Linked DNA regions of Homo sapiens. The protein of the gene in region 5 purifies or fractionates together with the protein of the main gene of each other region. This does not show direct contact. Each region holds a gene or a part of one and is shown on either strand. Other genes may lie near its edges.

Region 1 (4,268 bases), on a different chromosome or scaffold from region 5:
CAAGATCCAATCCAGATTCAAGAAACAACAAATTCCAAGCTGGATACATAAAAAGAAATCTACAATCAGCACATCACACAGTTCAACTACAGAATATCAAAGACAAAAAGGATCTTTAAAACAACCAAAGAAAAAAGATTATCTTCAAATTGGAAACCATTAAGACTGATAGATGAGTTTTGAAAATCAACAATGGAAGCCAGAAAATATTGTCAGTAAGAATATAATTAGGGGCTGGGTGTGGTGGCTCATGCCTGTAATCCCAGCACTTTGGGAGGCCAAGGCAGGCGGATCACTTCAGGCCAGGAGTTTGAGACCAGACTGGCCAACATGGCGAAACCCCAGCTCCACTAAATACAAAAATTAGCCGGGCGCAATGGCATGTACCATAGTCCCAGCTACTCAGGAAGCTGAGGCATGAGAATCACTTGAACCCAGGAGGCGGAGGTTGCAATGAGCCAAGATAGTGCCACTGCACTCCAGCCTGGATGACAGGGAAAGACTTTGTCTCAAAAACAAACAAACAAAAAGCATATAATTAAACAACCTAGAATTCTAAACCCAGGGAAAATATCTTTTAAAAAGAGTAAACGGAAATCGTTTTCCACCCAGCAAAAACACATTTTTAAAAAAAAAGTCTAAAGAATGTATTTAAGCACAGAGCATGGTGGCTCACACCTGTAATCCCAGCATTTTAGGAGGCTAAGGCAAGAGGATCATTTGAGCCCAGGAGTTTGAGACCAGCCTAGACAACATACTGAGACCCCGTCTCTACAGAAATTTTTAAAACATAGCCGGGCATGGTAGTACATGCCTGTGGTCCCAGCAACTCAGAAGGCTGAGGTGGGAGGATCACCTGAGCCCAGGAGGTCAAGGCTGCACTGAGTCATGATCATACTCCTGCACTCTAGCCTGGGCAACACAGTGAGATCTTATCTAAAACACACACACACAGAGAATATATTTATACATATATAATTCCAGACATGATACAAAGAGTGAGCCAAGAAAGTGCTAAATATATAGGCAAAGCTAAGCAAATATCATTCTTTGTATTTCGGGGAAAGAGTAAGGTTCCTGATTAACTTTAAACACTGGTAGGAATATAAGACCAGAAATTTAGTATCCAACTTCCAAACTAGCAAATGAAAAAAAATTGTGTGAAGAAAAATAAGAGCCTAAAAAGAAAAAAAAGAAGAAGAAATAAAACCAAATGTCAATAATCATAAAAAATGTGAGTAGACTATACGTTCAAGCTAAAGGACAAAGATTGTCATACTGAATTATAAATTAAAACCAGCTCTATACTATGTACAAGTAATATCCGAGACATGAGGATACAGAAAGACTGAAAGAGTGGGAAATTATATAAAGAGAAAGATGATGTGGCTATTAATATAAGACAAAATAGTCTTTTAGGCAAAAACATCAGAGATAAAGTCACTACATAATGACTCAATTACCCACCTTCAAAGTATTTAAAGCAAAAAGTAAAAATCACAAATCCATCATCATACTGGCAAATTTTAACAAACTCCTCTTAGTAACTGATCAAGCATATCAAAAAATAAAAAAAGTGAACAACACAAAAAGCTCAAGTAATCTATAAATTCATTTCAAACATACACAGAACTCTTACAAAAAACTGATTACATACTGGACAATAAAGGAAGTCTCCAAGTATTTCAAAAGATTGGTTATCATAGCAATCTTATTTTCTGACAGTATGATTGACTTAGATATCAATAAAAAATACTGCTAGACAACCTACATGTTTAGAAGAAACATACTTCCAAGCAGCCTACAAGTCAATGAAAAATAAAAATTAGAAAATATTCAGAATGAATGAAAAAAGTTAAATAACCCAACTTGAGACAGAACTAAAGTCAAACTTTATGGCCTAAAATGATCTTAATAGGAGAGAGGCTGAAAACTGAGTTTAAAAACTTATGTACTTATTTCAGGGTAAATTAAAGAAGAGAGCAGGGAAAAAAAAGGTACAACTTATAAATACTACAGATAAAAAAGTAAAGGATTCTTAAGAACAATTTTTATAACTTCTGTAACTTACAGGAAATAGACACATTACAAAAAATATAGAGTTTACATAAACTGTCTTAACAGAAATAGAAAACACGAAGTTAGATTAAAACTTTCTCAGAAAAAAACTCCACCCAGGCCCAGACACTTTTATCAGCAAGATCTACCAAGTATCTCAGAATGTTTCCAATCTTAAACTATTACAGAGAATAAAGATGAAAACAGCCCCAACTAATTTGAGTATTATAACCTTACACTAAAAACTGTCAAGGAAAAAGAGGGGGGGGAAATTACAGGCTCTGAACACATAAAAAATTCTAAACAAAACACTAGCAAACCTTCATTTGTAATAGCCGAAAGTTGGAAAAACCCAAACATAATTGGGAAATGGATGAACTACAGTATGATGGGATACACAGAACTACTGACATATACAATTACATGAATGAATTTCAAACACATTATGCTCAATGAAAGAAGCTATAATGAAAGGCAATATACTGTATGATTCCATTAGTGTGACATTCTGGAAAAGGCAAAACTATAGGGACAGATCAGTGGTTACCAGGTGAACTAAGGGCTGAGGGACGGGATAACTACAAAGACACTTGGAGAAACTGTTTGAGGTTGATGAAAGAATTCTGTATCTTAATGGTAGCTGGTGATGGTTACCCACTGTCTACATTTGTCAAAACCTGAAGAACTACACACTTATTCATTTATAATGTTAAAAGATAAATTTTACTGTATATAAATTATATCTTAATAAAGAGGAAAAGAAAAAACAAGCCAAATCCATGATTTAAAAATGGTATATCATAAACTGTATTAAACGCAAGCATACAAGGGTGGTTTAATACTAGAAATAAATTATATAATTCATTACACTAACAAATTAAAATAAATTAGATGCTCATCCCAATAATGAAGAAAACAGATTTTGTAAACTTCAACATCCATTCACGCTGAAAATTTCAAACCAGGAATAGGAGTAAAACCCTCCTTTACCCGATAAGGGATACCTACAAAAAAATTAACATCATATTTAATGGTAAATGTCAAAACCATTTTCTTTAAATTAGGAAACAAAGGTGTCCACTATTATCACTTATGTATAACATTCTATTATAGAGGCCAGAATGTCAGGCAAAAAATAAATAAATAAATAAAGACTAAAAGTAAACAAAATTAGTAATTATTCAATGATATGAATGTCTACATAGAAAGTACAAAAGAATTTACAGATAATTACAATCATTTCAATGAAGTACACTGCCAAAACAAGTAGTTACTACTTTAGAGGAAGAAGAGTCATTACTAACTGAAATATTTAATTCCATTACCTTGACTAGAATCAGTAGTGTCGGATTTCAGGGAAAGTGGTTTTGCTCCATCTTTAACTTTTTTCAAACGGTTCTTATCTCCTGGTAAAGTCAATTTTTGCCTGAGTGGTTTTAATTCAAATGCCTGAAAAGTTTTGACTTGTGTTTTCTCCTCAGGAGCTACTTCTTTACTTGAATCCTTTGTAATACTGACATTATCAGTGCTAGTTTGGTCCTCGAAGTTCAATGTTTTAGGATCTTCCTGCACATTCTCTTCTTTGCTACTCAATGCTAGTTTTTCATCCTTATTGATGCATTCTAGTTCCAACTGTATTTGTTTATACTTTAAAAGCAAATCTTCAAAAGTTTCTTCCACACAGTTTTCATTTTTTGATGAATAATTTTGTTTTCTTGATGGAGACCTTCCAAAACTTTTGGCTGAACAGCATATTAAGGAAACCAGTTTCCAAAAATTTTCCACAGTTAAATTTAACAAAAAAACTTAGATTATAGATGAATTTTCTCCCTTTTTAATTTTTCAAGAAAAATGAATCGATATTTTTAAATTACTAAATTCCATTTAATGTATGTGCAGCTAATGCCCACTTTCATTACGTGCCCATATTTGAATTTAGTAAGTACCATATAAACAGTCCACTTACAAAATCACTAGTGTCATAATTACCAGTAGTATCCACAGACAGTCCACCTAGTTAGGTTATAGCATCATTCCTTCTGTGCCAGGAAAGTCCATAATTAGCTGTATGTTAGAGATTATTTTCTGAAGGAAGAGGGGAGAAACTGAATGCTTTGTCACAGATGCGGATAGTTTACACTTCAGGGGGCCAGGCGCGGTGGCTCACGCCTGTAATCCCAGCACTTTGGGAGGCCGAGGCAGGAGGATCA
Region 2 (4,268 bases), on a different chromosome or scaffold from region 5:
GGGAGCCCCTTTCTGGGCTGGCCAAGGCCGCAGCCGGCTCCCTCAGCTTGCCGGGAGGTGTGGAGGGAGAGGCGCGGGTGGGAACTGGGGCTGCGCGTGATGCTTGCGGGCCAGCTCGAGTTCCGGGTGGGCGTGGGCTCCGCGGCCCCGCACTGGGAGCGGCCGGCCGGCCTGCAAGCCCTGGGCAGTGAGAAGCTTAGCACCTGGGCCAGCAGCTGCTGTGCTCGATTTCTCGCAGGACCTTAGCTGCCTCCCCGCGGGGCAGGGCTTGGGACCTGCAGCCCGCCATGCCTGAGCCTCCCCTCAGCCCCCCACTGTGGGCTCCTGCGCGGCCCAAGCCTCCCCGAAGAGCGCCACTCCCTGCTCCACGGCACCCAGTCCCATCAACCGCCCAAGGGCTGAGGAGTGCAGGCGCACGGCATGGGACTGGCAGGCAGCTCCACCTGCGGCCCAGGTGCGGGATCCACTGGGTGAAGCCAGCTGGGGTCCTGAGTCTGGTGGGGACTTGGAGAATCTTTATGTCTAGCTAAGGGATTTTAAATACACCAATCAGCACTCTGTGTCTAGCTCAGGGTTTGTAAATACACCAATCCACACTCTCTGTATCTAGCTAATCTAGTGGAAAACTTTTGTTGTCTAGCTCAGGGATTGTAAACACATCAATCAGCACCCTGTCAAAACAGACCAATCAGCTCTCTGTAAAACAGACCAATCAGCTCTCTGTAAAATGGACCAATCAGCGAAATGTGGGTGGGGCCAGATAAGAGAATTAAAGCAGGCTGCCTCAGCCAGCAGTGGCAACCTGCTGGGGTCCCCTTGTACACTGTGGAAGCTTTGTTCTCTTGCTCTTTGCAATAAATCTTGCTGCTGCTCACTCTTTGGGTTCACACTGCCTTTATGAGCTGTAACACTCACCACGAAGGTCTGCAGCTTCACTCCTGAAGCCAGCGAGACCACAAACCCACCAGGAGGAACGAACAACTCCAGACACGCCACCTTAAGAGCTGTAACTCTCACTGCAAAGGTCTGCAGCTTCACTCCTGAGCCAGCGAGACCACAAACCCACCAGAAGGAAGAAACTCCGAACACATCCGAACATCAGAAGGAACAAACTCCGGACACGCTGCCTTTAAGAACTGTAACACTCACCGCGAGGGTCCGCGGCTTCATTCTTGAAGTCAGTGAGACCAAGAACCCGCCAATTCCGGACACAGTGGAACATTATTAATAAATCTATACCCACAAATTTGAAAACTTAGATGAAACAGGCCAATTCCTTGAAAGATATAAAGTACCAAAACTCATACAAGAAATAGATAACCTGAATAGGCCTGTATCTGTTACAGAAATTATACTGATAATTAATAACCTCCCCCAAAAGAAAGGACCAGGACCAGACAGTTTCAATGGTGAATCCTACCAAACATTTATGGACAAAATGAAACCAATTCTCTAAAATCTCTTACAGACAATAAAGGCTGAGGGAACAATTCTTTACTCATTCTGTGAGGCCAACATTACCCTAATTCTAAAACCAGAAAAGACATTACAAGAAATGGAAACTACATACCAGTATCTCTTAGGAACACAGATGCAAAAATCTTCAACAAAATATTAGCAAAGCTGATTCGACAATGTAAACAAAGAATTACAACCATGACCAGATGGATTTGTTCCAAGTATATAAGCCTGGCTCAACATTCATGAATTATTTTGTGTAATTCATCACATCAACAGGCTAAGGAAGAAAACTCAGATGATCACAGCAATGGGTATGGAAAACATATTTGATAAAATCCAATATCAATCCATGATATTTAATATTAAAAAAATCTTAGCAAACTAGGAATAGAGGGGAACTTCCTCAACTTAAGAACATTTACAAAAATCCTACAGCTAAGATCACACTTAATGGCGAGAAACTAGAAGCTTTCTCACTAAAATCAGAAACAAGACAAAGATGCTACTCCCTCATTACTCCTACTCAGCACTATACTGGAAGCTCGAGCTAATGTAATACAACAAGAAAGGGAAAGAAAAGACATACCTATTGGAAAAGAAGAAATAAAACTGTCCTTGTGATAGTCCATGTAGAAATCCTAAAGAACTGCCAAAAAAAAACCCGTCCCGGAACTAATAAGTGATGATAGCCAAGTCTCAGTATACAATATTAACATACAATAGTCAACTGCTTTCCTATACACCAGCAACAAGCAACTGGAGTTGGGAATAAAAAATACAATACCATTTACGTTAGCACTAAAAGAAAAAAAAAGAAAAAAAGAATTAGGTACAAATCTACCAAAATATGTACAAGATCTATAATCCCAGTAATCCCAGCTACTCAGGAGGCTGAGATGGGAGGATCCTGAGCCCAGGAGTTTGAGACCAGCGGAGTTACACAGCAAGACCTCATCTCAAAAAAGAAAAAACAAATTAGTACATTGTTGGTGGGAATGTAAATTAGTACAGCCCTATGGAAAACAATATGGTGGTTCCTCAAAAAACCACAAATACAACTACCATATCATCTAGTAATCTCACTTCTGGTATACATCCAAAGGAACTGAAATCAGTATGTAAAAGAGATATCTGCACTCCCATATTCATTGAAGCATTATTCACAATAGTCAAGACATAGAAACAACCTAAGTGTCCATTAATGAATGAATAAAGAAAATGTGGTATAGATACACAATGGAATACTGGAGGACATTACACTAAGTGAAATAAGCCAGGGACAGAAAGACAAATACTGCATTATCTCATATGTGGAATTCCTAGAATTCCATACAGTTCCATTCCTAAAAGTGGAGAGTAGAACGATGGTTACCAGAAGCTGGGGGTGGGGGACTTGGGGAGAGAGGGAATAGGGAGCTGTTGATCACAGAGTACAAAGTTTCTGATAGACAGAAGGAATAGGTTTTGAGATCTATTGCACAGGAAGGTGACTATGGTCAATAATAATGTATATTTCAAAATAACTGAGACTGAATTTCAAATAGCTCATCATAAAAAATTATAGGCAAGGCAATGTTAATTAGCCTGATTTAATCATTACATGTTGTATATATGTATCAAAACATCACGCTATACCGCATAAATGTATACAATTATAATTTGCCAATCAAAAATAATACTGATAATAAATTTTTAAAGCTAATGATGTAGAAGATAGAGCTGAAGAAATTATCCATAAAATAGGAGAGTGAGACAAAGAGAGAAATTATGAGAGATTAAGAAGCTTGGATGATCCACTTAAACTGCAGTGAAAATGCAGAAGCAGAAAATTTAAAAAGCTACAAGAGAAAATAGAGATGAACTACAAATATATAACAAACTGACAGGAAGCTTCAACAGCTATAATCGAAGTCAGAAGACAATAAAATACTAGTTTTGATGCATTTAGGAAAAATATCTGTCAGTGAAGAATTCTTTAAGTAATTCAATTCTTTAAGAAAAGTCAAGAGAGCAGAGCCGTAAGAACCAGAGGAAAACAAATTAAGCCTGAAATCAGTCCTATTCAGACTTCCAGTTATATGAACCAATAGACTTCCTTATTAAAAACTGATTTGGTTTGTTTACCTATTGGTAAAAACTTTGTAAGGACTTAAAGACCATGACATTTTAATTAAATAATCATATGTGTTTCACCCCATCAAACCCTATATGTTTTTATGAGTATGGGAAAAGGTGTGGAAGAGTTCACATCTAGGAGAATGACAACAGGCATTCAATAGAGTTACAAAGAGGTTTTTTTTTGTTTTTTTTTTGAGATGGAGTCTCACTCTGTCACCCAGGCTGGAGTGCAGCAGCACGATCTCGGCTCACTGCAATCTCTGCTTTCCGGGTTCAAGTGATTCTCCTGCCTCAGCCTCCCGAGTAGCTGGGACTACAGGCGCGCACCACTGCGCCCAGCTAATTTTTGTTTTTTGTTTTTTCTTTTTTTTTAAGAGATGGTGTTTCACCATGTTGGTCAGGCTGGTCTCCAACTCCTGACCTCGTGATCCACCCACTTTGGCCTCCCAAAATGCTGGGATTACAGGTGTGAGCCACCGCACCCAGCTTTTTTTGCTTTTACATCTTTGTATTGTTTGACTTACTCTAAGGAGGTTGTATATTACTTTTATAATTGGAAGTAAAAAAATTCATAAAGGAGACAGGTGTGGTGGCATGTGCCTGTAGTCCCAGCTACCCAGGAGGCTGGTTGAAGTGGGAGTATCACTTGTGCCCAAATTCAAATTCAGCCTAGGCAACATAGTGAGACC
Region 3 (4,268 bases), on a different chromosome or scaffold from region 5:
AACTAGTCAAATGAGAATATGAAAAATCCAGATACTTCCTATTGATACTGAAGAACAGATTTTAAAAAGCCTAGCCTTAGGCTGTGTTTATTTATGTGTCTAATTCTCTTATGAAGATAAGCATCTAATAAAATATGGAGCTTAAAGTAAGATACATTTAAAAATCTCTTAGTCTATATAAATCAGGTAATGGGAAAATAATTTTCCTACTTTCATTTCAAAATAGGTCTGAAAACACCTTATTTTCAGAATTTGCATCAGCTGAATATTAAGAGTCTAAATCAAAATTAATTAGAATTATTAAATGCTATAGTAGTTTTCGCTATCATGTTTTTACTTGTTAAAACTATTTGGGAAAAAGATCCATTTTCCCATCAATGTCACCTTCAGTAAGAAGCTAAGGAGGTATTTATAACCTTCACAAACCACTCTATTTGCCAAATAATACACAAAATATATTGAATCAAAGCAATTATTCTGCTAAATACATGAATGACAAGAATGAGGAAAATCAGTCTTACCTTATAGCATAGATACAGCAGTATTAATATCGGTACTGAATATCGCATTATACATATCTATATAAGAAAGACATTATTTAGATTATAAGTATTTTGAACCTTTTCTTTTTTGAGAGACAGGGTCTTGCTATGTTTGCCTAGGCTGGCCTGGAATTCTTGGGCTCAAGTGATTTTCCTGTCTCAGCCTCCTGAGCAGCTAGGATTATAGGAGTGAGCCACTGTGCCCGGCTTTTTTAAACACTTCTGCCTTACAGTTTTGCTTTGTAAATATATGCCTTAAAAAATTACCAGAAATATAATTTAATGGAGCACAAGTCTCCAATATGCAGAATAACTGAGTCGATACTAGGATTCTAATCATTTGTAAGATATCTGCAGCTTCTACTATATTGCCACCTAGTGAATTTATGGAGTAGAACAATTCAAAACTGCATTTATAGGCTACTGAAAAATTGTCATACATATATAAATAATTATCTTTATGAAAATACATTATAATAACAACAGTTATAATTCCGGACAAGGGGATTATTGGTAATTTTAATTCCCCTTTTGTGCTTTTTTTTGTATTTCCAAATTCTGTATAATGAACATATCTAACTTATAGTCTGAGAAAAAAGTAATTTTTTAAAATAAAATTATTTTAAAATAATTCCCTATAAAATCTTAATATATCAATTATGTATTTTCAGCTTCAATTTCAGTATCCATTTTATCTCACAGCTACTGAAAAACAAAAAAAGAAGTGGTATGAAAGAAATACTGCAAGTCATAAAAGGAGATGGAAAAAGGGATGACACTGACCCTCTTTGGGTTATAAAGATGGACTGACTTCAGAAGTAACTCCCATATTTCAGGGCTACATAGGCCGAATGATGCGAACACACACATGTGTGACGTCCAGAGGTACTTCATTCTGCAAGAACAGACACAGGCGCAAGTCAGAAGTACTAGTTGTATATAAACCTGGATTCTGAGACACCTATAAAGGCAGCTTTACAGTCTATGACGGCAAAATCTTACTTAAAACTATGCAGATGCCATTTGCCGAAGGGTTCGTTGTTTAACTCCACTGCCTTTTCAAGACTATGCTTTGAGTAAAACATAGAGGCGTGTTTGTAATTAATTGTAAAAACTGATGTTGAGTATTTTATACTGAGAGAAGATAGGATATAAGGATGATTTTATGGGAACCATGATCATTAATGAAGATGATTGTCACTTTCCAAATTATATTGCTAAGTAACATCAAGAGTGATCAAATAAAAAGTAAACAAACAGGTAAGACAAAAATACCTCATTGTACTCAATGCCAAGAATCCAAACAGAATGGTATGTATTAAGTTGTAGGCAGTTTCTGGTTTCAGGTCAACTGTGCCTTTTTCCATTTTACCCACGGATTGTTGATTTGTAGAATCACTGAGTAAAACAGCAACATACAAAATTTAAGCTGGAAACATAATTTTAGTTAGATCTTTGTAAAAGAAGAAGATACAAGAAATGTATGCCTTTATGTATTCAGAAATTGATTATTTCCATAAGATGAAATGAATTCGCATTGATCAATTTTGAATTTATGAGGCTAAAGTGTAACAATATAAATGCATTAATAATGAGAAAAACTGAAATTTCACAGCAGCTTTGAAGTAAAAATTTAAAGTGCTTCAATTCTTTAAATTAAAAGAGAATGCAAAAAAAAAAACTCAAATTTTTTGGAATTGCTGAAATTGAAAGAGATTTTTAAAAGATGTTTTACCAGTTATTATGAGTATTTTTCAAATTTTTACAAATAAGCAAAAGCAAAACACACATCCATTAACTTGGAATTCAGTTCCTTTATGACCCCTCAAAAATCACATTTTTAACCTACCAATACCTCCTGATATCCAAAAGATGACTTTTACCAAATACGGCTACATTAAAATTATTACACCCAATAAAAGTAACAATAATTCCTTAACATCATCTAATACCTAGTTCATGTTCTATTTTCCCTGTTTGCATCAATTGCTTTTTTCAGGTTTCTCTGAATCAGGATCTAAGAACTGCATGTTGCATTTCACTAATATATATCTTTAAATATCTTTTGATCTATAAAAGTATCTCCTTTTTTTAAAAAACAGGCCATTTGTTTGTGGAAGAATAGAGAACATATGTCCTGAAGCTGTTCCCGTCTCCCAGGTGTGGCTCACAGTGGTGGTTATACGTTTCATGCTTCTTGTAAACTTGTAATTAGATCTAGAGGTTTATCAGACACAAGTTCATTTTTTTGGCAAGAACACTTCACGGGGTTATGATGCACAGTAGTCCCCTCTTATCGGTGGATTCACTTTCAGTGGTTTGTTATTGAGGAAACTGCTGTCCGAAAATATTAAATTGAAAATTCCAGAAATAAACCATTCATAGTTTTGAATTACATGCTATTCTGTGTTGCATGATGAAATCTCTCCATCCCTGTCTGTCCCACCTGAGACTCAGATCATCATCCCTTGGTCCTGTGTTTCCACGCTGTATAGTCTACCCACCTACCCGAGACAGACAAGCAGATACATTCAGCTACTAAACTACTAATAAAGTAAGATACATTTAAATGTCCCTGTATTGTTTGTGTTCAAACAGCCCTTATCTTACATAACTAAGGCCCCAAAGTGCAAGAGAAGTGATGCTGGCATGTTGCTATAATTGTTGTATTTTATTATTATTGTTATTCTCTTACCATGATTAATTTATAAATTAAACTTTATCACAGGGATATATGTATAGGAAAAAAACATAGTATAGAAAGGGTGTGAAACCATCCGAGGTTTCAGGCATCCACTGAGGGACTTGAAACATATTTCCACAGAAAACAGGACGGCTCTATTCCACATCACATTACACCGGGAAGCACACACTGCCTGGCTGTCTCCACTTCAGTGATGTTAAGACTGATCAGTGACTTTAGATGTTGCACAATTTGTTGTCGAGGGGAAAAGAAAACAACAGTAAAGGCTACTAGTTAAAGATGAAACTTTCATGAAGGTCTACTGATCCCTTCATACATACCCAATAGAACTGGGCACATACGATGCTTCTCTATGTAACTAGAGACTTTTTTTATTTCCCAGAAATCCTTTTTTTCCTACCATAAATACATACGAAAATTAAAAGGATACTCTAAGGCAGTTCTCACCATTGGTAATTCACAATTGGAATCTTTACTTAAAAGTAAATATTACAACCCAAACACTGGTTTCCATATTGGTACAAAAAGGATACTCCAAATAAGAATATCCATCAACAGGGCAAGGTGTGAAAAGTAAATAAAAATAAAACAGACAAGGGGAGTATCTGCTCTTATCCTCTCTAGATACCTAAGAGAAGTCTGCAGTACCTCCCCCATAGCCCAGCCAAGCTGGAAGGCTCTGATTAATTCCATGAACACAGAACACCATGCCCCTTTCAGATGTACCCCTCACACTAATGCAGATGTCTACATAAAAGTCATAGTATCTGGCAGGGTGCAGTGGCTCATGCCTGTCATCCCAACACTTTGGGAGGCTGAGGCAGGGAACACCATGCCCCTTTCAGATGTACCCCTCACACTAATGCAGATGTCTACATAAAAGTCATAGTATCTGGCAGGGTGCAGTGGCTCATGCCTGTCATCCCAACATTTTGGGAGGCTGAGGCAGGCAGATCACTTGAGGTCAGGAGTTCAACACCAGCCTGGCCAACATGGTGAAACCCTGTTTCTACTAAAAATAC
Region 4 (4,268 bases), on a different chromosome or scaffold from region 5:
GGGCGTGATGGCGGGCACCTGTAGTCCCAGCTACTCCAGAGGCTGAGGCATGAGAATTGCTTGAACCCGGGAGGCGGAGGTTGCAGTGAGCCGAGATTGTGCCACTGCACTCCAGCCTGGGTGACAGAGCAAGACTGTCTCAAAAAAAAAAAAAGTTCGAAGTCCTCTGCAGGAAGGAAGCCTAAAATCCCGAGCATATCATGGAGCTCCCCTCTCTCCTTAGACTCCTAAGAGCTCATGGTGGCATCTCAAAGGACGAGCCCAGGTTCTGCGGCTCCATTCTGAACTCAAGGATCAGGTCTGTTGTTCACCAGCCACGGGTACCCTAAAGGTTCTGGCACTCAGAGTCCTCTGAGAAAAGGAGACCAGTCCTTATGGTGCCAGGTCTGGCAAGAGTACCCAGAAGCAATGCCAGTGAAGACATTGTCATGAAAATGACCCTAGTTGAGCCGGTGCAGTGAATGGCGTCTGCTTGTAGGCCCAGCCACTCGGAAGGCTGAGGCAGGAGGATCACTTGGGCCCAGGAGTTACACAGCAAAACCTTTAAAAAAAACCTTTAAAACCTTTAAAAAAACCTTAAAAAAAAAAACAACAACAACAACAACAACAACAACAAAAAGCCCCTAGTCCGTGTTCGCCTGCAAGGCCCTGTACTTTAGAAGCCTCCTCTCTCTGATTCCTCACATTGGCCCCCAGGAACTATCATTAGTCTCTTTTCACAGAAAAACAAACAAAGCCTCAGAAAGGTTCATGACCTGCCCAAGAGCATGGCAGACAAGTGGTGAGCATGGCACAGGAACCCGAGCCCGCCTGTGGGGGCCAGACACACTACTGTCCTACATTCACGGGAACCCGGGCTGCCTGCGGGAGCTGGCCGCACTGCCGTCCTGCGTTATCTTTCCAGACAAGGATGCAGCTGCAAAGCTGGGCAGGCTGTGGGCAGCAGGGGCCTCTGGCCTTGTCCCCTGGTCCTCACTGTCCCACAGAGTCCATTCCTCAGGAGCCACTGGGACTGGGGCCCCCGGGTGGGCAGGGGGTAGGCACCCACCATTCTTCATCAGGATCTTGATCTGATCGGCCAGGGGCAGCGTGCGCAGCTGGGCCATCGACAGGACGTTGCTGGGGGCCACAGGCTTGTCTCTGGGAAAAGCAGAGGGGACGGGTTAGAGGCAGCCAGCCCGGAAAGGGAGAGGGTGTCCTGCCGCCTCTACTCACTTCTCCTCCTCCTGGCTGGGTGGCATCAGCATCATCAGGTACTCACTGCAGGGACATGGCAGGGGCAGAGGCTCAGGGCTGATCCAGGCTGGACCCTCCTCACCAGCCACCCAAGTGAGGGTCTGGGGAGAGGGTGCAGACAGCCCACCCCCGCCCTCCCCCAGCAGCCCTGAGCCCCTGCAGAAAAGTGGACCATCTCTTTCCAGGCCCACCCTCCTGGCCTTCTCCAGGGGACAATGGGCTCCACCCTCATGCTACAGGAGGGGCCACAGTCCTCTGGGAGGATCCACACCAAGGACCCCTGGGGACCCTGGGCAGGCATCCAGTTTGCATGCTGGCCCAGCCCATCCCACCTGGGTGACTTGACGAGCTCCGTGTTCTCCACCCCGCTTGAGCCGGGGCACAGCAGGTACTGACGCTCATGCTCAGAGCGACTGTCCTGTTGGAGGAGGGCAGGGTGTGAGAGGAGCCTCAGCTGATGGCCCTGGCCTGGGCCCCCTCCCCCAAGGCCTCCCGTCTTCCACTCCATGGCCAGCCACAGGACCACATCCAACCTCCTGAGCACGGCACCCAAGGCCTCTGACGTGGCCTCAGCCACTCATCTTCCTGGCCTTATGACCTGCCCAGCCCCAGCCCCCAAGCCTCGATGCCTTGTCTGTAACACAGGTACACCACCAGCAATGACAAAATGATGGCTAACATTCACTGGGCATCTAGGATGTGGTGGACTCTGTTCCACTGACTGTAAATATACTAACCCATCTCACCCTCAAAATAACTTGGCAAGGTAGGTACTATTATTACTACTCTCATTTTATAATTAAGAAAACTGAGGCTCAGAGAGGTTAGCTAACATGCCCAAGGTCACACAGCAGGAAACAGCAGTGTCTAGAAGTTTGACCCCGAGTCTAAGGGTCTGTTAACACAAATCTCTTCCAAGAAGGTTCCAGAGAAATCAGGAGTTGTTCCCCACCCCAGAAAATATTGGGAGCCCTGGCCCATGGTGTCTTTGGAAGCATCCCTCACTCAGTACACAGTTTCAAGGGTTAGGTTCTAAAATCAATGCACCAGGGCCAGGTGGTCGTGGCTCACGCCTGTAATCCCAGCACTTAGGGAGCCTGAGGTGGGCAGATCACTTGGAAATCAGGAGTTCGAGACCAGCCTGGCCAACATGGCAAAACCCCATCTCTACTAAAAAAACAAAAACAAAAAAATTAGCAGGTGCCTGTAGTCCCAGCTACCTGGGAGGTTGAGGCAGAAGAATCACTTGAACCCGGGAGGCGGAGGTTGCAGTGAGCTGAGATCGAGCCACTGCACTCCAGCCTGGGTGACAGAATGAGACTGTCTCAATAAATAAATAAATAATAAATAAATAAAAATAAAAGTAAATAAAGTCAGCGTACCAGATGAAAACCAAGCACAGTAAGAAAATCCCCTGGGCAGGTGGTGCTGGGAACTCTGGGGTGGCAACACATGACCGACCCTCTAGGACAGAACCGGAGAATGCATCTGGCCTGCGTTTAGGGCCTGGGCTGCAGCGAAAATATGTTACCAGGCACTAGCCCCACTGCAAGCCCAGCAAGATGCCCATGCCCAGGGGCCAAACCCCACCCAGGGAACCAAGGACTCGCATCTTTTCCTCTTGCTCTCCTGGGGCCCACGCTAAGTGGCTCGGCTGGAGTGAAGTGTAAACTGCCCACAGGACTCGATCCTCTATCTGTGGCTATGACTCATGAATTTGACTTAAGTTCAAGGTGAGACACGGAGGCCACACCATGACCCTTCCGGGCACCGAGGTGTTTCCCCCAGGACCCCACGAAGCCCCGCTCACCCTCAGGCCATAGTAATGCAGGTGGACCCAGGGCTCCTCTGCGTGCTTCTTCTGCAGGAACTCATAGGACTGCACACGGCGCTGGCGGGCCTGCTCTGACTCCGGCCGGGAGAACCGCACCTGCGGTGGGAAGGGGAAGAGGTCATACCGTCAGGCCTGTGACCCTTGCTGGACTGCCGTCTCAGCCCCTGCCAGAAGACCAGAGAACTCCGTATAGGGGTTTTCCACTCTCCCTTCCTTTCCTAGCACAGGTCGTTTAAATTCCGTTCCAACCGTGTCCCTCCCAGAGCTGCCTGCACACGCCAGGGAACGGCTTATACTTGCTCGTGCCTGCCCAGCCCAGAGGCTTGAGGGGGATTAGAGTCCCAGGCGCCAGAGCCAGCAGAGTCCTTAAAGCAGACAGGCCCAGGATGCCTTTTCTAAGTTCCCCAGAGCGGAAGGGAGTTTCTAAGGTCCTAATAAGCTACGGAGAGAACAGGATGAGCTCCCTGCGCCACCTCCATGTCCATTACGCCCGTGTTCCCCGGTCCTCAAGGGCTTCCAAACACTCACCACTCTCTAGCCATACTTGTGTATCATCATTCTACGTGTAGCATTTTTCTTTTGGTACTACTCATTTTAATCTAAATATGCTTAAATAGGGAAAACTTTACAAACCATAAATGGAAGGTTAAGATTCTTTGAAAAATCTTTAAAATTCAGGAATAACTATTAAAACGAAAACTATTCATCCGTGCCCCATAAAGAGGATAGAATCACAGTTAATTGACTTTGGCTCTGTTAAGATACAGGTTCATGGCAGAGCTGGTCTGCGGGTCCTCAGGGCTCCTGGCCCCAGCTTCCTGCTCCCAGGTGACTCTAGCCAAGCCCCAGGCACACATCTCCTGGATCCAGCCAGGGCTTCCATCTTGTGTATAGCTGGAACAACTCAGGTTGTTCCCTCCAGGTAGCCCAGCAAGAAGGCTCAAAAGCATGGGCCCTGTCTGCTCCACCTGCATTCTGTGAAGACCCGCTACCCCTTGGTCTCTGGTCCTGCTGCCGCCCAGGCAGCACCCTCCTCCTCCAGGGGCCAGGGCTCACCGTGATCTGCTTAACATCGTCTTCCGCCTCATCCTGTGAAGAGTCCCCTGCTGCAAGAGAGACAAGCCACTGACTGCAGTCCTGGGGAGCCTCCACCTCCCTTCTCTCAACCCCACCCGCCAGGGAAGCCTCAGGCCGGGGT
Region 5 (4,268 bases):
GTTTTTGTCCTGCGGGTCTTGCAGAGATGCTGCTGATCTTTCCCTCCTTGAAACCCTTGCTCCTTTGGCTGCCGCCAACCCCTTCTGTGTGGCTGGTCTCCAGGCTTCTGTCCTTGACCCACTTCTCAATTCATTCTCCAAGTGTGCCTGGGGAGCCTCCTCTCTCCCTCAGATGGCCTGGCAGTGGTACCTCCAACAAACTATCCTAATTATCCCCCTTCCTGCCAAGACTCCCTCTGCACGCATGTTCTCTAGCTCTGTGGAAGACACCATCATCCTCCTATCACCCGAGCAGGCCCCTGGGGCAGCCCTAATTCAGGGTTTCCTTCATGCTGCACACCCAGTCATTGCCAAGTACAGCTAGCATTGCTTCCCAAGGACCTCTCCCATTGCCCCCGCCCACCTTCCACAGCTTCATTCTCACACAGGCATTGCAGTCCTCAATGTCTCCATCTCCCCCTCTTTCCTGCCCTCCTTCCAGGGTCCCACCGTGTGAATTCCACCTTGACGCTTCCCTGTTCAAAACCTTCAGTGGCTCTCTCTGGCCTTGAGGGTAAAATCCAAGTCCTTGAGCATCCTCCCATATCCCTACCCACTCCCCATCCTGGGCCCTTTCCTATCTCTCCAGCCCCATCCCCTGACACTCCTTGTCTAGAACTTTACCCTCCAGACCTTACAGTGCAGACGTCGAACTTTATCGAAACCCACACCCTGCCAGTTTTCACCTTTGCTCCTGTGACTCCTCTGTGTGGAGTGCCTTTGCCCTCCTTAGTATCTATCACCTCCACCTGGCTAACTCCTACTTAGCCTGTGAGACTCCAATGTCACCTCCTCCTGGAAGTCCTCCCTGATCATCCCCCATTCCTCCTTGGTGTTCCCAGATGACATGCTGCATTATGTGGGACTATTTCTTCCGCCTCCCTTACTGATGAGGGAGTGCCTTGGGAACAAGATCTGGCCTGGCTTAACAGATGCCTCAGTACCCAGCAAGGGAGCTGGACCTGAGTTGGTGCTCAACAACCATTTGTTGAATGACTGGGTGAGTGAATGACCCTGCCCTGAGACATGGATAGCTGAGGCAGGAGTCATTGTGTCCTGGGTAGTGCTGGGCCCCAGGCTCACCAGTGCAGAGCAGGCCTGTGCCGATCCATCGAAACAGCTGCATGTGCTCCCTGCAGAAGCTTCTGGCTCTCAGGGCTGGCTGCAGGTTCCTCCTGGGAACAAGACCAGCAGGGTCCATGAGTGCATGAGCAGACCCCATCTGGGGGAGATCCTCAGCACCTCCACTCAGGTATGTCCCCAGTAAAGTGGCAACAGGGGCAAGCCAGGGCTTGCCTTGACATCCCCACAGGGCTGCAGGGCAACCCCAGCCCAGGGCAAATGTAGAAATGGTTCAGGCCTTCCTGCCTCTGTGGCAGCACCCACAGGCCCCACTACCCCAGTGATAGTCCCTGCCTCCAGGGCTCAGGAGGAAGTTCACTGAAAAGGCAGAACCTCATCAACATACAGAAATGTGGCCGGTGGGGGGGCGCGGTGGCTCACACCAGTAATCCCAGCACTTTGGGAGGCCCAGGAGCGTGGATCACTTGAGCCCAGGAGTTCAAGACTAGCCTGGGCAACATGACAAACCCCTTCTCTACCAAAAACACAAAAATTAGCCAGGCATGGTGGCGTGCGCCTGTAATCCCAGCTGCTCAAGAAGCTGAGGCAGGAGAATCTCTTGAGCCCAGGAAGGGTTCGTGCCACTGCACTCCAGCCCAGGCAACAGAGTGAGACCTGCCTAAAAAAAAAAAAAGAGAGAAAGGAAGGAAGGAAGAGAAAGCAAGCAAGCAAGAAAGAAAGAGAAAGAAAGAAAAAAGAAAAGAAAGAAGGAAGGAAGAGAGAAAGAAAAGGAAGGAAGGAAGGAAGGAAGGAAGGAAGGAAGGAAGGAAGGAAGGAAGGAAGGAAAGAAGGAAGGAAGGAAAGAAGGAAGGAAGGAAAGAAGGAAGGAAGGAAAGAAAAGAAAAAGGAAAAGAAAAGAAAAGAAAAACATGGATGGCTGCCTCCCCTCCCCTGTCGTTCATCCACCTGCCCATGGGACACACATTGAGTAGACGCCCACTCAATGCTAATTGGAATCCACCCACCAGCTGCCATTTTAAGGAGCCTCACCTCCTCTCAGTCCCCACCTCCCACCTCCTCCTGAGAGGGTGGAGGAGGCATTCTTCCCATATCCCCTGCCCAGGCAGAGAGACGGAATCCCTCCCCCACCACCACCCCCTGCCCATCACGGTGTCCTCAGCTCCGGATCTGGCCAACAAGGACCCAGATGGCCCAGGCATCAGGAGGTGGAGTTCTATGCTCACCTCAGACACTCGCTGCCTATGCCATCCTGGCTGGTCCCTTCCCCTCTCTGGGCTTCTACCTCCCTGTGTAAAATCAGGGACCTTGCCCAGTTCAGGATTTTTAACCGGAGTCTTCAGACTCCCCGAGGTACCCCAGAGACTGAATGGGGGTAGAAGGCAGAAGGGGGAGGTTGAGAGGGAGGCCTGGCTGGTTCAGGGCAGGCCCCACGGTACATACTGGGGTTCCTGATGGGATTTCGTTTCAGCTGTTCAAAAGCAGGTGGGGAGCCTGTGACTTGGCTCACCCTCGAGGCTCATGTGCCTGTGCGTGTTGGCTAAAGCGCCTTTATTCCTCCCTTCAACAAAGGTTCACGTCCCCCCAACTCCCATCCGCCAGGAGGCCCGGCTCCCCATCCTGTTCCCAAGCAGCCTCCACCCCAGGCCCGCCCTTGTCTCTCCAGAGATCACCTACCATCTGGAGAAGGGCTTCGGCGCCGCCTCGCTCCAGCTGCTCCTGATCTCTGCGGGGCTCAAGTCACTCCTAGGGAGCTGGCCTTCCTCCTACAGCCCGCAGGGAGCCGTCAGGTCGGCCTGCCCCTTACCCACCCCCAGGAACTTACAGCTGGGGGTCGGGGGCCACGGTGAGACCCTGGCTGAGGAGGGGACTGGGCTGGGGCACAGGGAGGAATTAGAAGGCTACTAAACTGGATTCTGCAAGGCAGGCACTGAGCACCTACTGTGTGCAGGGCTCTGCCAGACACATCTTGCCCTCAGCGAGCTCATGGTCTGCGCAGGGACAGACACCTGCGGCCCAGCTGTGACTGAGAGGGGCCGAGGGGAGGCCTGTAAGGGAGGCCCCAGGCAGGGCTACCTCATCACATGACCTCAGGGCACCATGCACCCACCGTCTGTGGAGCTGTTTTGGGTGGGGGGTGGGTATTCTTGCATATGACAGCGTGAAAGGAGCACCCCAAGAGACAAGGGCAGTGAAGGGGAGGGGGCTTTGTCAGAGGAGCCTGGGAGCGTGCAGGGTATCCTACCAGGCTCCGAGTTCTGGGTGGTGTGCCTCGACCTGACCTGGCCACTTGAAAGCAAGGACAAGGCTCCTTGAAGGCTGAGATTTCCTTAGAGACCCCCCTCCCCCATCATCTGGTTTTGATTCTCATTCTGTAGGTCACAGCTCTAATGTCACTTCCTCACTGGGGCCTGCCCTGCCCTTTCAGACTAGGACTTTCAGACTATAGTGCACACAGTACGTGCTCAGTCAATGTTTAATGAGTGAAATAAAGGGGTCTGCCTTGTGTTGAGGAGGCCAACACACTGGGAGGTTCATAACTGTGCCAGCAAAGAGGTGAGAAGGGGGCAGAAGAATGGGGTATGAGGGAAGGTGGTGAGCAAAAGCCTCATCACCTCGGCAGCCGGGCTCAAGCCAAAGAGGCTGAGGGGTCAGGATGACTGATGGGGAAGGGTACAGACCAGGCTTTCCAAGAAATCAGCCCCCATGTTCTCCAGACCCTTGGCCACAGGTGTGAGAGAGATGGACTCTCTTCGTCTCGAGGGGTCGTTCTCCATGTCCCAGACCTTCCAGCTGAAAGACAAATCAGGGAGCGCCCAACGCTGAAAGGGAGGCCGGGCAGGGCCCAGTTTAGGGGCCCGGGGAAAGGGGAGAGGACTGAGTGGGGGGAGCAGATGCCTGGCACAGCCAGAGCCCTGCCTGGGGGCCACCTATGCCATCCCAGAGCTCACCCCTCCTTGTGACTGGGACTGCAACCTTGACTTCTCAGCACATGGAGGAGGTACCTCTTCCTTTTTCTAGAGACTGGGTCTCCCTGTGTTGCACAGGCTGGCCTCCAACTCCTGGGCTCAAGCAGTCCTCCCACCTCAGCCTCCCAAAGTGTTGGGATTACAGGCGTGCGCCACCACCCCAGCCTGCACCCACATCTG
Region 6 (4,268 bases), on a different chromosome or scaffold from region 5:
GAAAAAGGGGAAATGTGGGGAAAAGATAGAGAAATCAGATTGTTGCTGTGTCTGTGTAGAAAGAGGTAGACATAGGAGACTCCATTTTGTTCTGTACTAAGAAAAATTCTTCTGCCTTGGGATGCTGCTAATCTATAACCTTACCCCCAACCCCCTGCTCTCTGAAACATGTGCTGTGTCAACTCAGGGTTAAATGGATTAAGGACGGTACAAGATGTGCTTTGTTAAACAGATGCTTGAAGGCAGCATGCTCCTTCAGAGTCATCACCACTCCCTAATCTCAAGTACCCAGGGACACAAACACTGCGGAAGGCCACTGGGTCCTCTGCCTAGGAAAACCAGAGACCCTTGTTCACTTGTTTATCTGCTGACCTTCCCTCCACTATTGTCCTATGACCCTGCCAAATCCCCCTCTCCGAGAAACACCCAAGAATGATCAATAAATACTAAAAAAAAAAAAAAAAAAAAAAAAAAAAAATTTAAAAATCAGCAGGGCATGGTAGCATGCACCTGTAGTCCCAGCTATTTGGGAGGTGAGAGGATCACTTGAGCCCGGGAAGTCAAGGCTGCAGGGTACTGTGATCACAGTACAGCACTCCAGCCTGGGCGACAATGAGACCCTATCTCAAAAGAAAAGAAAAAAAAAGTCAAAAGGTATATTCCATTTAATGCACTCATCGTAAACAGAGATCACTGCCATGGTCCCTCCCAAGTTACCGCAGAGTCTTCACAACCGTCCAGTTCTCCTTGTTCAGCTGGGCCTCGTCCTCATCCTGAAAAGCGATCTGCTCCGGCTCCTTGTTATCATTCACCTTCCACAATAGGATGACAGCATCTGCAGGGTGATTCAGTAACAGTGATCCACGCTTCACCCACACTCCTTCATATTAGGATTTTTATTTTCATTTTTTTTTTTTTTTTTGAGACGGAGTCTCACCCTGTCGCCCAGGCTGGAGTGCAGTGGCGCAATCTTGGCTCACTGCAACCTCTGCCTCCCAGGACCATCCTGGCTAACTGTCTCTACTAAAAATACAAAAAAATTAGCTGCATGTCAGGATTTTTAGGGTATTAAAACAACATTTATGTTGTTCAGTGGACACTATGGCCAGGATGATTTACTTCCAAGCATTTCAACAGGGAAAGTAGGCAAATTGCCTTCTGAGCTAAAACTCCAAAATCAAATTCATAACAGATCAGAGCTATACAAAATCACCTTAAACAGAAGGGTCCCTAGGCCAGCAAATGCCACTGCAAAATGACTGGCTACATTAATAAATCTGAAGGCATAACCTATAAATAGCTGAATAGAAAAACAAAACAGCAAAGAACCCTCAGTGCAAGGGTTGGCAAATGTTCCTAGCTCAGAAACCTTCAGCAAGTCACTTAGCATCTTGATGTCTCAGTTTCCTCACCTGTAAATGGGGATAATAGGCAGGGTGGGGTGGCTCACGCCTGTAATGCCAGCACTTTGGGAGGCTGAGATGGAAGGGTTGTTTTAGCCCAGGAGCTCAAGACCAGCCTGGGCAAGAGAGCAAGACCTTGTCTCTACTAAAAATCAAAAAAATTAGCCAGGTGTGGTGGCACACACCTCTGGTCCCACTACGCAGGAGGCTGAGGTGGGAGGATCACTTGAGCCCGGGAGGTGGAGGCTGCAGTGAGTCCTGATCTTGCCACTGCACTCTAGCCTCAGTGACAGAGCAAGACCCTGTCTCAAAAATGAGGATAACAATATATCTACCTCACAGGCTGTTGTGAGGATTAAATTGGCCAATGTATATAACACACTTACAACACAATGGCTGGCAGATAGTAAGCCCCATGTAAGTGTCAGCTATTAATACCATTATAGATATCAGGTACTTTAGCCTGAGGTCACCCATTGTCTAAGTCCAATAACTCCCCACATTCTGACTCTACGATTACCACGTAACCTTCTGACCATCCCTTAGCTTCCCTTTTAGGAATGTGCACAGCAGGACAGTGAATGAATGAGGTTGTGAGGACATACGCATTCCCATTCTTTGTTTTTCTTTCTTTTTTTTTTTTTTTTTTGAGATGGTGTTTCACTCTTATTGCCCAGGCTGGAGTGCAATGGTGCAATCTTGGCTCACCACAACCTTCGCCTCCCGGGTTCAGGCGATTCTCCTGCCTCAGCCTCCCGAATAGCTGGGACTACAGGTATGCACCACCACACCCAGCTAATTTTGTATTTTTAGTAGAGACGAGGTTTCTCCATGTTGGTCAGGCTGGTCTCGAACCCCTGACCTCAGGTGATCTGCCCACCTCAGCCTCCCAAAGTGCTGGGATTACAGGCGTGAGCCACCGCACCCAGCCTGCATTCCCATGCTAAGTTAACCGGAATCCTATTCGCACACATTAGTCTGGGAGCTTGGTTAACATGCCATTGGCCCTGATGGATGAACACTCTCCACGTGCTGACAACAGCAGGTTTCTGGGCCTCCAAGACCAAGGGACTTTGGAAAATGGGGGCTGCCATGTGCAACCTCAGGGCAGACAGCAGGTAGCCACCCCCAGGTGGCGCTCCTGCTCCCCACTTTTCCCTCTACAAATCAGCGTGCGCGCGCACACACACACACACACACACACACACACACACACACACACATCCCTTCATGCACTCTGGGTATCATGGCACTGAACTCAACCAGGTCTCTTTTCCTCCTCCTGCAAAAAAAAACTTTAGATTTCTGTTTTATTTTGTAATAGTTTCTAGATTGTTTTAAAGTATGGTAAAAAGGTTTACTTTTTTTTTTTTTTTTTGAGACAGACTCTCACTCTGTTGCCCAGGCTGGAGTGCAATGGCCCAATCTTGGCTCAGTGCAACTTCCACCTCCCAGGTTACAGCGATTCTCCACCTCAGCCTCCTGAGTAGCTAGGATTATAGGAGCGCACCACCATGCCCAGCTAATTTTTGTATTTTTAGTAGAGATGAGGTCTCACTATATTGGCCAGGCTGATCTCAAACTCCTGACCCCAAATGATCCACCTGCCTCGGTCTCCCAAAGTGCTGGGATTACAACATGTGTGAGCGACCGCGCCCAGCCTGGTTTACTTTTTCCATATAGTTTTATCCCATTTAAGCACAGGCAGAAAACAAGAATCAATCTATTCCCACCAAACAAGCAAGCACAAATCACAAGGCCATTCATTAATGACACTCCCGGTATGCTCCCTCCCCAGCACCCTCCAGCAGCCCGGCACTGCAGACACCAGGACTCCAAAGCAGCATCAGTCACAGCAGGGAATGGGAGAAAACACACAGATGTCAAACCAGAGGAGCTGCCAAGCTGGGTACCGACGCGGGATCTTACCCCGACCGGCACTGCTGGAGCGTTTCAGAGGCTACTATGGGTATTACAACAAGTATGTCACTGTGAAGAAAGGGAGCATTGCGGGGGTTTCCACAGTGTTGGCAGCTTAGGTGCTTTTCAGCTACTGCCTTTCTTACAGGGAGATCAAACACGAGCAGCTACTCAGGGCCCACTGAAGAGGGGCCAGTGGGAGGGCACACTGCACTTCTGAGCATGGCACACCTCCATGAGGAACTTTGCCATTGCTGAATTCTTTCATATCCCAGTTTAGAATTCATGCCCAAATAGCCCGGGCGCGGTGGCTCACGCCTGTAATCCTAGCACTTTGGGAGGCCGAGGCAGGCAGATTGCCTGAGCTCAGGAGTTTGAGACCAGCCTGGCTGACAAGGCGAAACCCCATCTCTACTAAAAATACAAAAATTAGCCGGGGGTGGTGGCAGGCGCCTGTAATCCCAGCTACTTGTGAGGCTGAGGCAGGAGAATCGCTTGAACCTGGGAGGCAGAGGTTGCAGTGAGCCAAGATTGTGCCACTGCACTCCAGCCTAGATAACAGTGAGACTGTCTCAAAAAAAAAAAAAAAAAAAACTCCCAAAGCCAATTAATTACTAACACAGTCCTAAAGCCATTTAATTAATTACACAGAGACACAGAACTGACTCTGATCACCACAGATGTTAAACTAACAATCCAACAAAACCAGAACAGTCGCCTTGCTTGGGATGTGACAGAATGGTAAGTGCCTTTCCATCTCGTCTTAGAACAGCCTGGTGGGAGCTTGCGGGAAAGCAGCTGTTTTCAAACAGGTGTTCCTGGTTTCATCTTGCTGTCCTCCCTCCCTGACTCTACCACATTCCCTAGAACAGTATTTTACTGAACTACCTAAATGACAGATTGAGAGGGTCAGCCACACCTGAACTAAAAAGCATATCCAGGCCG
Region 7 (4,268 bases), on a different chromosome or scaffold from region 5:
GAAGGTGCTCTCTTCTTTTGAGATGGCTGGGCTATGAAAGACCCAAGGAGATGTACATTTCTTTTTTTTGCTGTTCTTTTTTTGTTTTGAGACGGAGTATCGCTCTGTCACCCAGGCTGGAGTGCGGTGGCGCAATCTCAGCTCACTGCCACCTCCACCTCCTGGGTTCAAGCAATTCTCCTGCCTCGGCCTCCTGAGTAGCTGGGATTACAGGCGCACACCACCATGCCTGGCTAATTTTTGTATTTTTAGTAGAGACGGGGTTTTACTATATTGGTCAGGCTGGTCTTGAACTCCTGACCTCAGGCGATCCACCCACCTCAGCCTCCCAAAGTGCTGGGATTACAGGTGTGAGCCACCACATCCAGCTGAGATGTACACTTCTTAGTGGTAATTATACAGTCTTATGCACTATTATAATACCTTAACTCCAAGGAACTCAGGTGGCTTAATCCAACCTAGCTAATTATCAGTGACCTCTCTTTCTCCCCTAGCAGAATCCAGAGGTAAAACAGGTATGAAATAATCTACTGATGTCACCAGATTATGTACACATATACATGTTACAATTCATCCCCCATATAATTATTCATAGATCTTATATATACAAAGTATTAAAAATTTTAAGAGGAAGAGACTCTGACAGCACAAACCCACAGTCCCTCAGGCTGCGTTCACCAGCACTCCCCTTCTTGCCAAGCACGTCACACATATCCACAGCCTTCCACATGCAAGCTGCAGTCATGCCCTTGGTAGAAAGGTGGATAACCAGAAACTTAAGTTTTGAGGATTTTAACTCACCATGCTCTGAGATGACTGCATTATTCGCAGCTGCTTAAGGACAAATTCTACCTTCTTCTGGGTTGTAAGAGAAGCCAAAAGGGCATTGTGGTTCCTACAGAACAATTTAGCATTGTCATAATTCTCCTTGGCAGTAGTAATTTTCAAACATGAGTTTCCAACCAAATGCCAGCCAATGCCACAGATATTTTCTTTCATTAAGGGGAAAAGAGAAAGAAAAGAATTTTAGAAATCAGACAAAACTACTGTATTATGAGTTCAAATTACTGAATACCGAAATGGCCTTTCTAATTTAAATTCTAGGTACTTCATTAGGATGTGGGAGCCTCTGACACATTATTAAGGACCAAATGCAGAATACAAGAATTTTAAAATGTTTACTGGTGATATCTCCCGGATCCTAAAAAGCATATTCTGAGGTCACTTATCCTATGTCTTAGATGAAAACACCAGTTTGGTGCCAATATTAGACTGGTACACTTCCTTCTGAAGAACAATTAGAAAACTAAAATCCTAAGTGAAGAGCAGACAAATGAATATGCATATTGGAGGGCTGGGGTAAAAACTGCAAGAATGGAAATGAATCAAGGAATTAACAAATCTATAGTCTCCAAAAGCTGCACTGTTTTCATATCATCAGGTGGAAGGTACAATCAAGTGTACAAAGCATCCCAAAAGCAAGGTGAGAAGGTCCTTCTTGAGAAACAACCCAAGTGATATGGCTATAGCATACAAGACAAGCTTGTAATCTGCTACCTGTGATCATCCTGAACCCACACAAGGTACTGCACAGAAGCTATGAATGCTTCCTGGAAGACAATGAAAGAACAAAGCAACTTCACCAGAACCAAAGTACTTTGGAGACATCAACAATGTTCATTAACAGTAACAGTCACTGAGATAAAAGAAAGGTACCATGGGAAAGAGATCATTTAAGAACAGACAAAGACTTGCTCCTCACAGTGTAGCAGTCGACTAGATAAAATGCACACTCTAGGCCCCACCCCACACTTGCACCAGAATATGCCTTTCGCAAGATTCCCAGGTCTTTTCCTGTACCTTAAAATTTGAGACACACTGAGATATAGAAAAGAGTCCCACTCTGCAAGCTGAATCAAAAACTTCCAAGGGACATTCAAAAAGGGCCTGGTCCAAACCAACTTCCCTGAACAAGCTCAGATGTTGTGCACAGACAAGGAAGTTCCCCTTTCTGGACCACCCTGGTCCAAATATATCACATGGCTGGCTGGTCTCAGGCCCTGAGTTCATCATCCTGAACCTCAGAAGCAGGATATATTGAGGTTTTCAGGGCTGGAGATCACCCCTAAAAGGTGCTGCTGACAGAAGTATCTATCCTCTCCTTCTCAGAGAAGGCCCATTAGCAGGTGCCAACAATTAAATCCCAGTGGTTAATAAGAAGTACTCTCCATAAAGTGCTCAGCAGACTGACTGCTGAGACATCATGGTCTAGTCCCAGGTTATCAAAGGTGGATGGGAAAGAGACAAGGAGCAGGCTCAGTGATACAGAACCAAGCTGTCACTCAATTCTACAGAGCAGCAAAGGATGTTTCACTTTATTTCAAAGGACAGTAGGAACAAATACTTAAGAACTGTATTTTAGTTAAAAACAAAAAAGCCCATAATACTCGTGTGGGGGATGAATGGACAGAATTAGCTCTTCCCCTCTGCTAGGTTCAACTTAGGCTGCACAGTGTTGGGGGAAGCAGGCTGAAGTAATGGACCCACACACACCAAGATGACCCTGCAAGGCCTACCGGGCAGGGCAATGCACTCCTGATTCCGGGGCTCCCACTGGCAGTTCTGGTCCAGGGCACAGCTCCTGCAGCTGGTCTTCTTGTTACAGTAGTACATGGGGTTATCCTTGGGGCAATTCTCATACCTAAAAATGGAGATCTAGAACACAGTGGACAAAAGCTTTTCTTTTGTATCCACAGAGAGAACTTATGGTGAGGACCAACAGGATATTATAGACAACAAAATCTAATTGAGGAAGCAAACTGCAAATAAATAGATAGACAGATAGATAGATAGATAGATAGATAGATAGATAGATAGACAGACAGACAGACAGATAGATAGATAAGTTGCAGTAGCTCTGCAGTGGGGAACACTGCAATGGAATGTTCTGCTCAAGGACATGCTTTTAACTGGCAAGGAAGCAGCCCACTCTTTTAAACACCATGCCTCAACCTGCTCATCTGTAAAATGGGAATGTTGAACTTGGTGCTTTTCAAATGCTCACTTCAAAAGTCTGAAAGTTTTCTATTTTATGAACTGTATGAGACTGACAAAAAAAAAAGTCTTGTAAGCTGTCAAAAACTATAAAAGCCTGGGTCATCTTATAACTTAAATTTAAAAATCTATATATGATGAGCAGTGAGATTATGCCAAACCAAGATATAAAACAAGGAGATTTTGCAAAGTCTGTCATTTCCACAGTTCAATATGGGCCGCTGTACACCTGACTCACTCTCAAACCCTAACTTTATCAAAACCTGGCACTGGTAAAGTGAGGTCACTATCAGATGCCTCAAACCAAGGATCCAGTGCTTAGTCACAGCCATGCCCAGGGACAACAGTCCTACCTTCTTCTAAAACACAATACACAAATTCCCAGGGCTAGTAGGACCCTTGAAATATACAGAACATCTCTTCCTAAAGGAAAACCTCAGGGATAATAAAATCCAAATAGAAACCCATTTGAAAAGTAACTCTGGGCCATTATTTATACCATATACACTATAAAAGCTAAACCTATGACAAATTGGGATTTTTCTGAAATCTTTAAGAAACAGCCTCTGACCTGGCCTTCTGAGCAGCTGTGGTTCCTGGGGACACAATGGTCATTGCACCAGTGGCAGTCATTGGTGTTGGCTGTGCAGCTGTAACAATCTGTGTGCTGGTCACATCTGTCATGGTCAAGAGCTGCAAAGAAAACAAAATCTCATGAACTGGGACAACTTCAATTGAGCAAAATCTGAGACCGAAGTTAAAAAAAAAATCGTAACAATGGTTAAGAAGTAAAATGAAGAATGAAACTGGCAGGAAAATATATTTGGTATGTTCTGGTTAAAATAATATTTAGAAATAGACAATCTAAAGAAACACTGTTTTGTACCCCAAAGAAAGAAGTACACAGAAAGTGAAAACAAGGATAGGTTAATTTAACAACTGTAAGATATAATGAAAGTAAATTCTGGCTCTTTGAATACTTTTCTTTCCAAGAAAAAAAAAATCAACTAGTAATAGAATGAACACCAAAGAAGCCCAGGAGCCAAAATATTGTAGGACACCAAGTCATTCCTCCTAGTTATAAACGCAAGGCTAATTTGGGCACAGGAAGTAGGCAGCACCACAGAACTGAACAGGAGGCATTAGGCTGAGCTGCATTTTGTACATGCGTGTAAATTCAAGAGTGCAAGTCTGAGAATTTCTGGGCTACTACA

The links.
Region 1: the proteins of SLC28A1 (region 5) and ZFC3H1 purify together in Homo sapiens (affinity purification with mass spectrometry; one large-scale study listed by BioGRID and IntAct). This does not show direct contact.
Region 2: the proteins of SLC28A1 (region 5) and TMED5 purify together in Homo sapiens (affinity purification with mass spectrometry; one large-scale study listed by BioGRID and IntAct). This does not show direct contact.
Region 3: the proteins of SLC28A1 (region 5) and DPY19L3 purify together in Homo sapiens (affinity purification with mass spectrometry; one large-scale study listed by BioGRID and IntAct). This does not show direct contact.
Region 4: the proteins of SLC28A1 (region 5) and POLR3E purify together in Homo sapiens (affinity purification with mass spectrometry; one large-scale study listed by BioGRID and IntAct). This does not show direct contact.
Region 6: the proteins of SLC28A1 (region 5) and CHAF1B purify together in Homo sapiens (affinity purification with mass spectrometry; one large-scale study listed by BioGRID and IntAct). This does not show direct contact.
Region 7: the proteins of SLC28A1 (region 5) and ATRN purify together in Homo sapiens (affinity purification with mass spectrometry; one large-scale study listed by BioGRID and IntAct). This does not show direct contact.

Annotation. Positions count from the first base shown.
Region 1 is NC_000012.12:71,653,502-71,657,769, forward strand, and holds part of ZFC3H1 (zinc finger C3H1 domain-containing protein), read right to left. Parts: intron 3,801-4,268; coding exon 3,384-3,800; intron 1-3,383. UniProt on the Homo sapiens protein: Subunit of the trimeric poly(A) tail exosome targeting (PAXT) complex, a complex that directs a subset of long and polyadenylated poly(A) RNAs for exosomal degradation. The RNA exosome is fundamental for the degradation of RNA in eukaryotic nuclei.
Region 2 is NC_000001.11:93,170,203-93,174,470, forward strand, and holds part of TMED5 (transmembrane emp24 domain-containing protein 5 isoform 1 precursor), read right to left. Parts: intron 1-4,268. UniProt on the Homo sapiens protein: Potential role in vesicular protein trafficking, mainly in the early secretory pathway. Required for the maintenance of the Golgi apparatus; involved in protein exchange between Golgi stacks during assembly.
Region 3 is NC_000019.10:32,461,038-32,465,305, reverse strand, and holds part of DPY19L3 (protein C-mannosyl-transferase DPY19L3), read right to left. Parts: intron 1,941-4,268; coding exon 1,818-1,940; intron 1,438-1,817; coding exon 1,326-1,437; intron 579-1,325; coding exon 522-578; intron 1-521. UniProt on the Homo sapiens protein: C-mannosyltransferase that mediates C-mannosylation of tryptophan residues on target proteins.
Region 4 is NC_000016.10:22,313,987-22,318,254, reverse strand, and holds part of POLR3E (DNA-directed RNA polymerase III subunit RPC5), read right to left. Parts: intron 4,177-4,268; coding exon 4,127-4,176; intron 3,167-4,126; coding exon 3,047-3,166; intron 1,655-3,046; coding exon 1,569-1,654; intron 1,261-1,568; coding exon 1,216-1,260; intron 1,141-1,215; coding exon 1,049-1,140; intron 1-1,048. UniProt on the Homo sapiens protein: DNA-dependent RNA polymerase catalyzes the transcription of DNA into RNA using the four ribonucleoside triphosphates as substrates.
Region 5 is NC_000015.10:84,887,389-84,891,656, reverse strand, and holds part of SLC28A1 (sodium/nucleoside cotransporter 1), read right to left. Parts: exon of another isoform or gene 4,071-4,268; intron 3,913-4,070; coding exon of another isoform or gene 3,897-3,912; coding exon 3,801-3,896; intron 2,886-3,800; coding exon 2,797-2,885; intron 1,215-2,796; coding exon 1,123-1,214; intron 1-1,122. UniProt on the Homo sapiens protein: Sodium and pyrimidine nucleoside symporter of the plasma membrane that imports uridine, thymidine and cytidine into cells by coupling their transport to the transmembrane sodium electrochemical gradient.
Region 6 is NC_000021.9:36,388,118-36,392,385, reverse strand, and holds part of CHAF1B (chromatin assembly factor 1 subunit B), read right to left. Parts: intron 836-4,268; coding exon 718-835; intron 1-717. UniProt on the Homo sapiens protein: Acts as a component of the histone chaperone complex chromatin assembly factor 1 (CAF-1), which assembles histone octamers onto DNA during replication and repair.
Region 7 is NC_000020.11:3,575,306-3,579,573, reverse strand, and holds part of ATRN (attractin isoform 1 preproprotein), read right to left. Parts: intron 3,748-4,268; coding exon 3,626-3,747; intron 2,716-3,625; coding exon 2,577-2,715; intron 993-2,576; coding exon 802-992; intron 1-801. UniProt on the Homo sapiens protein: Involved in the initial immune cell clustering during inflammatory response and may regulate chemotactic activity of chemokines. May play a role in melanocortin signaling pathways that regulate energy homeostasis and hair color.